Linked DNA regions of Homo sapiens: all the other regions are linked to region 1. Evidence: fine-mapped expression QTL. A gene starts in region 1. Each other region holds a variant in brackets. All regions are shown on one strand. Distances are between the middles of the regions.

What was found. PIP is the estimated chance that this variant, and not a neighbour inherited with it, causes the effect. A credible set is the group of variants that fine-mapping cannot tell apart.
Region 2: its variant is the best candidate, but not a certain one, in a credible set for the expression of DRC1 in testis (GTEx, PIP 0.50).
Region 3: its variant is the best candidate, but not a certain one, in a credible set for the expression of DRC1 in cerebral cortex (GTEx, PIP 0.69).

Annotation. Positions count from the first base shown.
Region 1 is chr2:26,399,856-26,404,101 of GRCh38, reverse strand. It overlaps DRC1 (dynein regulatory complex subunit 1), which reads right to left and starts at 2,182. Exons shown (of 17, transcript NM_145038.5): 1 at 1,958-2,182. The coding sequence starts at 2,112.
Region 2 is chr2:26,433,775-26,438,020 of GRCh38, reverse strand. All of the region lies in intron 7 of DRC1 (dynein regulatory complex subunit 1), which reads right to left. Among named protein-coding and RNA genes, the nearest start is that of DRC1, 34 kb to the right of the region's middle. The variant T/G (reference allele first, on the strand shown) is at 2,396.
Region 3 is chr2:26,376,330-26,380,575 of GRCh38, reverse strand. All of the region lies in intron 6 of SELENOI (selenoprotein I), which reads right to left. Among named protein-coding and RNA genes, the nearest start is that of DRC1, 23 kb to the left of the region's middle. The variant C/T (reference allele first, on the strand shown) is at 1,957.

The DNA of each region.
Region 1 (4,246 bases):
TTGAGACAGAGTCTCGCTCTGTCGCCCAGGCTGGAGTGCAATGGCACGATCTCAGCTCACTGCAACCTCCGCCTCCTGGGTTCAAGCGATTCTCCTGCCTCAGTCTCCTGAGTAGCTGGGATTACAGGCGCGCGCCACCATGCCTGGCTAATTTTTGTATTTTTAATAGAGACAGGGTTTCACCATGTCGGTCAGGCTGGTCTCAAACTCCTGACCTCGTGATCCCGCCCGCCTCAGCCTCCCAAAGTTTTGGGATTACAGGCATGAGCCACTGCGCCCGGCCCAATTTTTTTTTTTTTTTTTTTTGAGATGGAGTTTTGTGCTTGTCACCCAGGCTGGAGTGCAGTGGCGCTATCTCAGCTCACTGCAACCTCTGCCTCCCAGGTTCGAGCAATTCTCCTGCCTCAGCCTCCCAAGTAGCTGAGATTACAGGTGCCTGCCACCACACCTGGCTAATTTTTGTATTTTTAGTACAGACAGGGTTTCGCCATGTTGGCCAGGCTGGTCTTGAACTCCTGACCTCAGGTGATCCTCCTGCCTTGGCCTCCCAAAGTGCTGGGATTACAGGCATGAGCTACGATTTTTTACAATTTTAAATGGTTTTTACAATTTTAAATGATTTTTACAATTCTAAATGGTTAATAAATAAATGGTTAAAAAAAGACTAGGATGAATAAGCAGAGCACAGGGGATTTTTAGGGCAGTAAAAATATTTGGTATAATACTATACTGGTGGGCTCGTGTCACCATAAATTTATCCAAACCCATAGGATGTACAACACCAAAAAGAAACCCTAAGGTAAACAATGGAGTTCAAGTGATAACGATGCGCCAAGGTTCATATATTGTTACAAATGTGCCCTCCAGTGCAGGATGTTGACAGTAGCTGTGCATGTGTGGGGGCAGGGAGTATATGCGAATGCTATACTTTTTGATCAGTTTTGCTGTGGTCCTAAAAACTGCTCTAAAAAATAAAGTTTATTATTATTTTTTATCAAAAGAAGGCTATTTTGTGATACATGAACAGTATATGAAATTCAAATTTCAGTGTCCATAAATAAAGCTTTATTGGAACACAGTCATGCCCATTTGTTTATGTCTTGCCTGTGGCTGCTTTTGCAATACAATGGCAATTGAGCAGCTAGGAAAGAGGCCATATGATCCGAAAAGCCTAAAATATTTACTATTTGGCCCTTTACTGAAAGGGTTTGCCGGCCCCTGCATTCCACTGATGGCCCCGCAGCAATCAGCCAGGGTGAGCGAGTGATGGAAACACACTGCAGGGCTTGGTAAGACATGTGTGCTCCAGACGGTGGGCAATCAACCCTATGAAGGCCCAGGGACTGCCATGTCATTCAAGTTTGTAGGGGTCCAGTGGTCAGTGGGATGCTGGGATAGCCTATCAAGTAAAAAACAAATCTACTGCATTTTGCATCCTCTACAGAGAAGGAAACTCAATGCCTCTTAGGCCACTTTGGGTCCTAGAGACAATACATCCCGCACTTAGGAATATTATTCAGGCTGACACAAAAAGCTGCCAGCTTTGAGTGGTGCCTGGAACAAGAAAGGACCCAGGCCACAGTGTAAGCAGCCAGGCTACTTGGGCCACATGATCCAGCAGACCCTGTGGTTTGGAGGTGTCCGTAGTGGAAAAGATGCCATGTGCAGACCACAGTCGAACGCCACCACGCCCGATTAATTGTTTGATGTTTTATAGAGATGGGGTCTCTCTATGCTGCCCAGGTTGACCATCTCCAACTCCTGGGCTCCAGTGATCGGCCCGCCTCGGCCTCCCTAAGTGCTGGGATGACAGGCGCGCGCCACGGCACCGGCCCAGCGTTTTACTTTCCCATACTCTGCCTGAACCTTCCCGAAGAAATGTTTCTATTTCATCAGGAAACCAGCCCTTCTCCGGCTCCTGCGGCGCGGATCCCGCCCCGCCCGCCCCCGCGCTCACCGCCTCCGGGCTTCTAAGCGCGCAGCGATGCGGAGGCGCCGGGCCTGGATGCGCTCCTGAGAGTTGTCGGAGTGGACCGAGGGCGCGAGAATCTGGGTGGACAAGTGCTCGTCCACGTTCGGGTCCAGGGCCTCTAGGGACCCCGGCGGATTCATGGCAGGAGTCCCTGGTCCCTAGGCGGCTCCCTCCGCACCACCTCCAGACCTCAGGCTGGTTGCTAGGAACAAACCGTTGCCAGGGAGAGCGGTCACCGGAGCCACAGCCCGAGTGGTTGCGCGCGCAGCTCCCTGGGCCCAGCCTGCCGCCAGCCGCCGTTCCGGCCGAGCATCCCAGCCTCGGGCTGACGCCTCTCCCGCCCGTGGGATGTCAGGTCTGTTGTCAGGCCCACGAAGGCCCGGTCGTGTTAGCGGAGCTGTGGAGTCTCACCAGGAGACTAGAGGACTAAAGAACTGGACCAAGTTGTGGTTCATCACTTGCTGACCCTGATGATTAATTCATCTTCCATTCATTCATCAAATATTCCTCCAACTCATATTCACCAAATAAAATTGAGCGCCTACTCGATGCCAAGCGCTGTGCTTGGATACAGGATACCAACCTGCAATCAAATACTTATGAAAGAGGAAAAGTGGAATAGAGGAAAACAGTCCGTGGGAGGGGGGAGGGATAAAAGTTAGAAATGCGGAAGCACTATTAAATTCTCAACTGTCCCCAGAAAGGCGCTATCTTCTGGGCGTCTCATTGTCAACAAAAATAGTGTTCTCATTGAGAATTAAAACCTGGCGCGCTGGCTCATGCCTCAGCCTCCCAACACTTTGGGAGGCCGAGGTGGACAGATCACTTGAGGTCAGGAGTTTGAGACCAGCCTGGTGAACATGATGAAACCCCGTCTCTACTAAAAATACAAAAATTAGCTGGGTATGGTGGTGGGCACCCATAATCCCAGCTACTCGGGAAGCTGAGGCAGGAGAATCGCTTGAATCTGGGAGGTGGATGTTGCAGTGAGCCGAGATCGAGCCACTGCACTCCATCCTGAGCAATAGAGCAAGACTCTGTCTCAAAAAAACCCAACCAACCAACCAAACAAAAACTGGATACCATTTAACAGGGTTCTGTCCCATTAGCCCGTGGGGAATTAAGGGCACTGGATGAGCAGTGAGAAAGGGTGAGTACTAGTCCTAGCCCTGCCCTGCCACCTTGGGCAAGTCACAACTTCTTGAGGAGCATTTTCTCAGCTGTTAAATGATGCAACCCACAGACAACTGTGCGGCCAAGACGACCCGTCCTTTGTGAGTAAGAACTGCCCAGAGGCAAATGGAGTGGGTTTTTAAAATCAGTTCTTCCACGTTTGCAAGCAGTAGAGAGGTTTAGGAATGCCAAAACCATCCAACAGCTATAGAGTCTAACAGCAGCTGCCTGGATCCTTGTCTCACACCTGCCTAGGTGGTGGTGGTAGGAGCGGGGGTACTTGCTTCTAGGCTTCAGGGCCTTCTGCCAGATCTCTGTCTCCTTTGGTTGAAACCTAAAGTATTAAACTCTCCTAGGAGCCATGATACAGCTCTGACCAAAAACTCGTCCAGGTCCTGGTTCATGTTTCCACTATCCGTAAGGACAGAAACAAGCATGTGTGCATGCGCATGTCTATGCCTGGGAGTGGGATACCATGAGAAAGTCAGGGGGAATCAGCTGTTGCACAAGAGGTAAGTGAGAGCAAAGGTACCATACAAACCCATGAAGAGTGACCAGTGAGATACTTGGCCCTGCACTGTTCTGATACCACTTCCAACATCTTTTTATATAAGAAATCTGACTCCATTTTTTGCTGCTGACATTTGGCTGCTGGCAGCTTTTACGCAGCACTCCCTCTTTCTTCTCCACATCTGGGCAAGCTGTTAAAAAAAGCCTAGGTGCTCTTTTTGGTGCTGGCAGATTTCATCTGCGTGCACAGGATACCCTCCTCCCAGCCTCACCCCTTAACCACAATAAAAGCCCCAAGCTTGTCTCCTTTCCTGGCTCTCTCTAGCCATTTTCTGACCAGCTGGGAGGCCCTCTTTGCTCCCACAGGCAGCCTCAATTATGTAATAAACCTTTTTCACTGGTGTGGGAAACACTTTCACTCACCGCTGGAAAGGGACCTCCTAGGAGGACAGTTTGCCAAAATCTATTAACTGTTTAAATTGGCATACTAGGGTAAAGGGTGGAATAGGGAGAGATTTGTTAAAGGATACAAAATGACAGGTTCTAGTGTTCTGCACCACTGGAGGGTGACTATAGTCAATAACATAGTTT
Region 2 (4,246 bases), 34 kb before region 1:
TCCCGGGTTCAAATGATTCTCCTGCCTCAGCCTCCCAAATAGCTGGGATTACAGGTGTGTGCCACCGCCACGCCCAGCTAATTTTTGTATTTTTAGTAGAGATGGGGTTTCACCATGTTGGCCAGGCTTGTCTCAAACTCCCGACCTCAGGTGATCTGCCCGCCTTGACTTCCCAAAGTGCTGGGATTACAGGCTAGAATACTTTTATATACTATGCCGCTTCATCATATATGAAATATTTAATATGTTTACCATGTCATAATAATTTACCATTTCCCTACAGTCGTGTGTGTGTGTGTATATATATATAGTTATATATACTTTTAATAATTTTCTCTTCTATAAAATAATGCTGGGACAAATTATATATACAACTCTTAGGGAAATTTATTTCCTTATGGTAGATTCGTAGAAGTGAAATGACTAAGTCAAAAGTTCTCAATAAATTGCTTTCCAAAGAGCAACCTATGGTTTATGCTCCCACTGGCCATGGGTGCAAGTGCCCACCTCACCCCATCCTGTCAGCACTGAGCATCGTGCCGGGCAGACCCTGCAGCTCCAAGTGCAGGCCTGGCCCTTGCGGAGGGAACCTGGGGCAGGGCAGGGAGCTGCCAGAAGCTTCAACTACAACTACAAAGGACCCTTTCTGAGCCTGTTTAAAATTTAATTTTGAAATGTCTGAGTTGAACAGTATCCCAAAGGACCTATGGATGATGCCAACAACAGCACAGCCTCATTTCAATGGCAGTTATCTGGGTGGTCCCAGGCTGAGTTGCTTTGGGCCCTGTCCCCTTCTAGGGATGGCCCTGAGTGTCTCCCAGGAAAGGGATTCTCAGAAGCTCTTCTTGCAAAGTTGCAATGATTTATGCCTCCATTCCTCAAATGAAACCAGCTCTGCCACTTCAAATGTTACCAACCTTGGTCATCGTGAGTGGGTCAGGAATCAGAACACAAACCAAATACACGTGGACTGAACATAAGGGAAGCCATTGGTCTATAAGGCAGCTCGGCACAAAAGTCCAATAGAAAAGCTCCATATGGGATGTAACCATCTGAGAACGTATGAGCACTCACAGAGAAGGAGGGTCTTCGGAACTGCTCTCCATTTGGGATGACAATGAATGGCTGTTCTGTCTTCCCGGGAACTGACCCATGTGGGGGCCCTGAGACCCAGAGTGCCTGAATGTCTACTCCGATGATTTCCAGGAAGCCCTCCTTCTTCTCCTGGCCTTGCAATAATCCCCTATCCCTAAGACAGCATTTCCCAGACTTATTTGGCCATAGGATTGTTTTTATATTTACAATACAACAAGAGCATGTGAACTATAAATGCAAGCTCTACCATATGCATGCTCATGTGAATTTCATTCTTAAAGGCAGGTTATTACATAATAATATGTATATGGATGGCTGGGCATGTTGGCTCATGCCTGTAATCCCAGCACTTTGGGAGACCAAAGAGGGAGGATTGCTTGAGGCCAGGAATTCGAGACCACCCTGGGCAACAAAGTGAGAACCTATCTCTACAAAAAAAAATTTAAATTAGCCAGGCATGGTGGCATGTGCCTGTAGTCCCAGCTATTCGGGAGACTGAGGTGGGAGGTTTGCTTGAGCCTGCTGGGAAGTCGAGGCTGCAGTGAGCCGAGATCATGCCACTGCACTACAGTCTGAGCAACAGAGGAAGACCCTGTCTCCAAAAAATAAAGGGCAGGGGGAGTGGGTGGGCAAAGAACATGAACAACACTTTTCAAAAGAAGGCATACATGCAGCCAACAAACATATGACAAAATGATCAGCATCACTAATCATTAGAGAAATGCTAATCAAAACCACGATGAGATACCATCTCACACCAGTCAGAATGGCTATTATTAAAAAGTGAAAAAAAAAAAAGAAACAGGAGATGCTGGTGAGGTTGCAGAGAAAAAGGAATGCTTACACACTGCTGGAGGGAAGGTAAATTAGTTCAGGCATTGTAGAAAGCAGTGTGGCAATTCCTCAAAGAACGTAAAACGGAGCTACCATTTGACCCAGCAATCTCATTATTGGATATATACCCAAAGGAATATAAATGGTTCTACCACAAAGACACATGCATGCATATGTTCATTGCAGCCTATTCACAATAGCAAAGACATGGAATCAACCTAGATGCCCATCAACGGTAGAATGGATTTTTAAAATGTGGTACGTATACACCATGGAATATTATGCAGCCATAAAAAGAACAACATCATACGGTTTGACATAAAGTTTAAAAAAAAAAAAAGAATGAGAATATGTCCTTTGCAGCAACATAATTGGAGCTGGAGGCTATTATCCTAAGCAAACTAACATAGGAACAGAAAACCAAATACCACATGTTCTCACTATAAGTGGGACCAATGAGAACACA[T/G]GGACACAAAGAGGGGAACAGTAGACACTGGGGCCCACTTGAGGGTGGAGTTTGGGAGCAGGGAGAGGATCAAAAAACTACCTATCGAGTACTATGCTTATTACCCGGGTAATGAAATAATCTGTACAGCAAACCCCTATGACGTGCAGTTTACCCATATAACAAACCTGCACATGTACCCTGAACCTAAAATAAAAGTTAAAAATACCTGTAATTGATTTTGTTAAATGTCTGTGCTTATTATTCAATTATCCAAAGATATTTTTGCAAAGTTGCAGTTCATGTTCCCAAGACTAATGGCAAAACATGATGTTTGTGTTTTATGAGTCATCAATAAAGATTACAAGCTAACCTGCCACAAAAGTCCTTCTACGGTAAAGGTAGCATAAGTGTTGACAACACCTTCCCTCCTTTTTCCTGGAGCAGCACAAGCTTCTCCACAGCTGCTTTTGGGTGTCATCTCTTGCCCATGGGCTCAGGGAAAGAGACTGCCACCAATGTGCCAGCAGGATGGAAATTTAAAACAGTCTTTCCCTCTGGCCTTCTCTGCTGACTCTAGAGACCCCACTGGGCCTATTTACCACAATCTCGACCCTAAACTGGGCCTGCAGGATTCCATGTTGGAACCCTAAGACTGGCAATGTCATCTCAGGCCACACTGTTGCTCCCCCTTTCTGCCCCATCTCTTTCTCTTTGACACTATTTGTGTAGCTTTCTTTCTTTTTTTTTTTTTTTGAGACGGAGTCTCGCTCTGTCACCCAGGCTGGAGTGCAGTGGTGAAATCTCGGCTGACTGCAAGCTCCGCCTCCCTGGTTCACACCATTCTCCTGCCTCAGCCTACTGAGTAGCTGGGACTACAGGCGCCCGCCACCACACCCGGCTAATTTTTTGTATTTTTAGTAGAGACGTGGTTTCACCATGTTAGCCAGGATGATCTCGATCTCCCGACCTCATGATCCACCTGCCTCGGCCTCCCAAAGTGCTGGGATTACAGGCATGAGCCACCGTGCCTGGCGGTAGCTTGCTTTCTTAATAGATTATAAGTTCCTTGAGGGCAGGAGCTGTACTTTGCTTATCTCTGTGCTTTGCACAATGTAAATTAATATAGTGTAAATAAACAACATATTTAATTTGGGGGGATTAATATTCTGGTTTTAAAGGTAACAGCCCCTAAGTTTAAGCTGAACATCTTACAATCCTAAATGATTGTATAAGGCCTACAGATAAAAACATTTGCTTCCTGCATCAAGAATTAAATGTTTCTAGCAGTTTTCTTTTAGGGTGGTGGGCAGCGGTAGGGAGTTTCCCCCTAAGTACACAATGTTTACAGGCTTCTCTTTGCTCTGTTATTCATAACATGACCTTTACTGGCAGTAAGCACTTGAATAGTAAGACATTTTTTTTTACTTCTTGTACTTTACCCATCATCCAAATCTATGTGTACTGTATCCTTCCTATTTTTGTGGTTTGCAAGAATTTTAGTTCCATATTTTAGAACTGATAGAGTGCTATGCATTAGTTGCAAAGAGCAAATTTGATGTTGAGCTGCATGTTATATCTTCTTAACAAAAATCAGTGCCATTTGGCTTGAATGTCTAGTGAAAATACACTTAAGAGTCACTATGATAAAGTTTAACCTACTAAAACATTCCACATGTTGCCACATGGGTAGTCCCTGATTGGATGATTTTTTTTTTCCCTCTGTTACAGTGTGGAAAGTGGTACAGGTAGCCTCGGTTTCCATCTGACACAGGAAAGAACTAGGACGCAAAGGCTCTGTGACCCCTTTCTGCCTGAAATGTCTCCATCTGCACACATGCCACCATCAGTCAACCTGGACAGGGACAGCCA
Region 3 (4,246 bases), 24 kb after region 1:
ATTTGTACAACAGCAAAAACTGGAACTAACCCAAATGTCTATTGATAGGGGGATGGTTGGACACACTACGGTACATCCACACAATGAAGTGCCAGGCAGCTGTAAGAGGACTGAGGAGGCTCCTTATAGACCACTGTGGAGTGATCGCTGGGATATACAATTAAGAGGGGGGAGGAAAAAAGGCACAGTACATAGTACAGTACATATAGAATGGAATGCTACCATGTATCTATGAAAGTGAGTGATAAAATGAAACACAAATATTTACTTATAGTAAGAAAGAAACAATGAAAAGATAAGCCATAAAATTAAAAACTAAGAATGGTTACCTCTGAGGAAAGAAAGGATTGGGTAACAACAGAAGCTAGACTTCTTTGAATATACCTCATTCTGTAAATTTGACTTTATCACAAATATTTTACATAATTATAAAGGAAAAATGAATTTTAAAAGAGAAAGTAATTCTTAAAGTAAAACAAATAAACCTAGATGTATAAATCCACAACTGGTGGCATAACCACAGAGTGGTGACTTTAAAATACAGTAAACTGACGGGACACACCTAGTGGGATAAGACGTAAGGATGAATAAAACTGCAAAAAAACAAAATCTTAATTTTCAGTTTTCCTCTGTTTGCTGATTTAGGTACTGTATTCGGAGACTGTTGTGAATAGTTCATGGAATAAAGCAAATGAGTATTCTGTGTCACTTAAAACCAAGGATTTTGTCATAGTTTAAAGGAGATAAAAATATAAGATCAATGAGGTTAAGTAAAAATTCTGTACTACCAAATTTGCTTTGGAATTATCAGTATGTATTTATGAAGTATTTTATCATAAAAACTTGATTTCCTTACCTATCCACTGAATGAATGAATTCCTAAGCCATGTTAATCAATGTCTGTTAATATTATTAGGTGAAGTTTAACCCTTAATAGTTTAAGGTAGCAGGTTAAAATATATATATATATATACTTGCAGCAGATGGAACAGACATACAAAACCTGAACCCGCTACATGCCTCCTAATGTGATGCAATAGGAAGACCAGTACCTAATAACACTGTTCCCCAGCATGCCCCCCAACCCCCAAAATTAAACCTGTATCAAAATAAGCTCACAGATCTAACTATTGTTTATAGGAAAAGTGAGGGGCAGAGGAACATGTTAATGCCATGAGACCGCAACCAGGAAAACGCAGAATCTAAGAATTCTATTGGCCAAATGACCTACTTTCTTCAATACATAAACTTCAAAGAAAAAATAGGGAAAAGCTACGTAGATTAAAAGAAATTTTTTAATTAGTTATTTATTTTAGAGACAGAGTTGCGCTCTTCTCACCCAGGCTGGCAATGGTGCAATCTTGACTCACTGCAACCTCCACCTCCCAGGTTCAAGCGATTCTCCTGCCTCAGCCTCCCGAGTAGCTGGGATTACAGGCATACGCCACCACACCCGGCTAATTTTGTATTTTTAGTAGAGACCACATTGGCCAGGCTGGTCTCAAACTCCTGCCCTCAGATGATCAGCCTGTCTTGGCCTCCTAAAGTTCTGGTATTATAGGTGTGAGCCACAGCACCCAGCCAGATTAACAGAAATTTAAAAGGCATACCAACCAAAGGCAATGTATAGGTACTCGGCAGCTATAGAAATACATCAATTGTGGTTCTTTTACAGAAAACCTTATCATTTAGAGATACACAGTGAAATATTTACGGATGAAAAGAAATGATATCTGGGATTTGCTTTAAAATAATCTAAAGGAAGGAAGGCATCTGTTAATGATGGCATAAAAAGGGAGGACAATTCTTCTCACAAATGATGATTAAAAACCAGACAAAAATATTTAAAACAACTACTTGAAGGTACTAGAAAATACTGAAGGACAGACAGAAATTCGAGAAGCATTTACACTTGAAACACTGGGGAACAACTCTGAGTTCGTGGCTTGCCTACCC[C/T]CTGTCCCAGACCAGATGATGGAAAGCCACAGTCTTCCTTACCAGCTTATGGAAGCAGATAATAGATTCAGAGCAGCAGAGGAACTAGAAAGCAGGGTGGGGGATATTGTAGAAGAGAGAGATGCAGAAGGGTTGAGATTCTAAATCTGAGTATATGCTCTGCCCAGATTCCTGGGTGGATGCTAAACTAAGCAAGCAAATCGGAGACCCCACAGAACATAGTGAAAGAGAAGGCAGAAAGTAGAGGAGATGCTGTGCTTGAAAGACAGAGGTGTTCTTGGTGAGATGTGAGTCTGCTGTATCTCTTACTAAGTGTGTTCCCAACCCACACTCAGACTGGGCTGAAGAAGGCAGAGCCCTTACTGGCTTGAGGGTTGGGGGCAGAACACAATTGCTGGAAGAGCAGCCGAAGATTCAGATGGGGAAACCCCAAAAGCAAAAAAATCATAGAGAGGTGAGCGCCAAAATCTCAGTATCGACTTTGCCCAAATCTTTGGCTGACCACTAAACTACACAGACACAAAGGAGACCCCCAAGAGACCTGGCTAAAAAAGCAGCAGCTAAAAGCTGAAAATAACCAAACAGAGACAAGAGCTACTTAATACAATGTGATGGGACAAATTTCTTCATCTGTGTCCAAACAAGTTAAATGCCTATCAGAACAAAAAACCAAAAATCCTCAGAGCAGAACAGATTATAGTCTCCACAAATATAATCTATAATATCCAGTTTTCAACAACAACAAAAAAAAAATTGCTAGGTATGCAAAGAAATAGAAAAAAAAGCAGTCAACAGAAAATGACTCTTAAGTGGGCCCAGATGTTGGACTCAGTAGACAGACTTTAAAGCAGCAATTTTAAATATGTTCAAAGAACTAAAGGAAAATATGATGATAATAATGAACAGAAGAATCTCAACAGAGAAATAGAAAGTTTAAAAACCAAATGGAAATTCTACAGCTGAAAAGTACAATAACTTTTTTTTTTTTGAGACAGGGTCTGACTCTGTTGCCCAGGCTGGAGTACAGTGGCACAATTACAGCTCACTGCAGCCTCGACTTCCTGGGCTCAAGTGATCCTCCTGCCTCAGCCTCCCAAGTAACTGGGACTACAGGCATGCACCACCATATTTGGCTTAATTTTTCTATTTTTTTGTAGAGACGTGATCCCACTATGTTACCCAGGCTGGTCTTGACTTCCTGGCCTCAAGCAATCCTCCCACCTCAGCCTCTCAAAGTGCTGGGACTACAGGTGTGAGCCACCGCACCCAGGGAAAAGTACAATAACTTAAATGAAAGACTTCCTAGATGGGCTCAACAGCATATTGGAGATGGCAGAAGAAAAAAAAAGCAATGAATTTAAAGACAGATGAATAAAAGTTATCCACTACAAAGAATAAAGAGATTAAAGAAAACTTAATAAAGCCATAGAAAATTACTTTTAGGACAGTATCAGGCAAACCTGTGTAACACACATGTAAGTGGGGTCCCAGAAAAGAAGAGAGAGGGGAAGAAAAAATATCTCAAGAAGTGAAACTGTGACTGAAAACTTCACACATTCAGTCAAAAATACTTACAGGTCCAACAGAGTCAACAGCTCAACAAATACCAAGAAAGACAAACACAAAGAAAACCACACCTAGGTACATCACAGTCAAACTTCCGAAAGCCAAAGATAAAAAGAGAACCTTGAAAGCAACAAGAGAAAAATAATACATTACAGAGTGACAATGATATATGAGCTGACTCAGAAACAATGGATGTCAAAAGACATTAAAATGATATATTCAAAATGCCAAAAGAAAAAATTCAGGCAAAATCAATACACTTTCACGTAAGTAAAAAGAGAGAATAAACTGCTACCAGACCTGCACTATAAAAAAACCTAAAGGAAGTCCTTCAAACTTCTGGGAAAGAACACCACATGGTAGGTCAAATATAAGGCAAATATGTCAGTAAGTAAATAAACTGTATATTATAACACAACCCGGGGGCTAAGCAGGGGGCTAAAGAGTACTGGTGCATTTCAAACAAGATTGGCACTGGTATTGAAAATAGTTGAGACTGGGTAATAGTACACAGGGGTTTATTATATAAAAGTAGAAACATTATAAAGAAAATTATGTGCCTATTAGAGTACACACTTAACATTAAAAAATATGTCTCATATACCAGAGGATTCTGTCTTATCTAAATTTAACACTTAAATGTAACATGCAGGAAACCTGCCATGGGACAATCAAAAGGGTCACTACATAATTGGAGAAGAAAAATAGCATTTTTGAGGTAAAG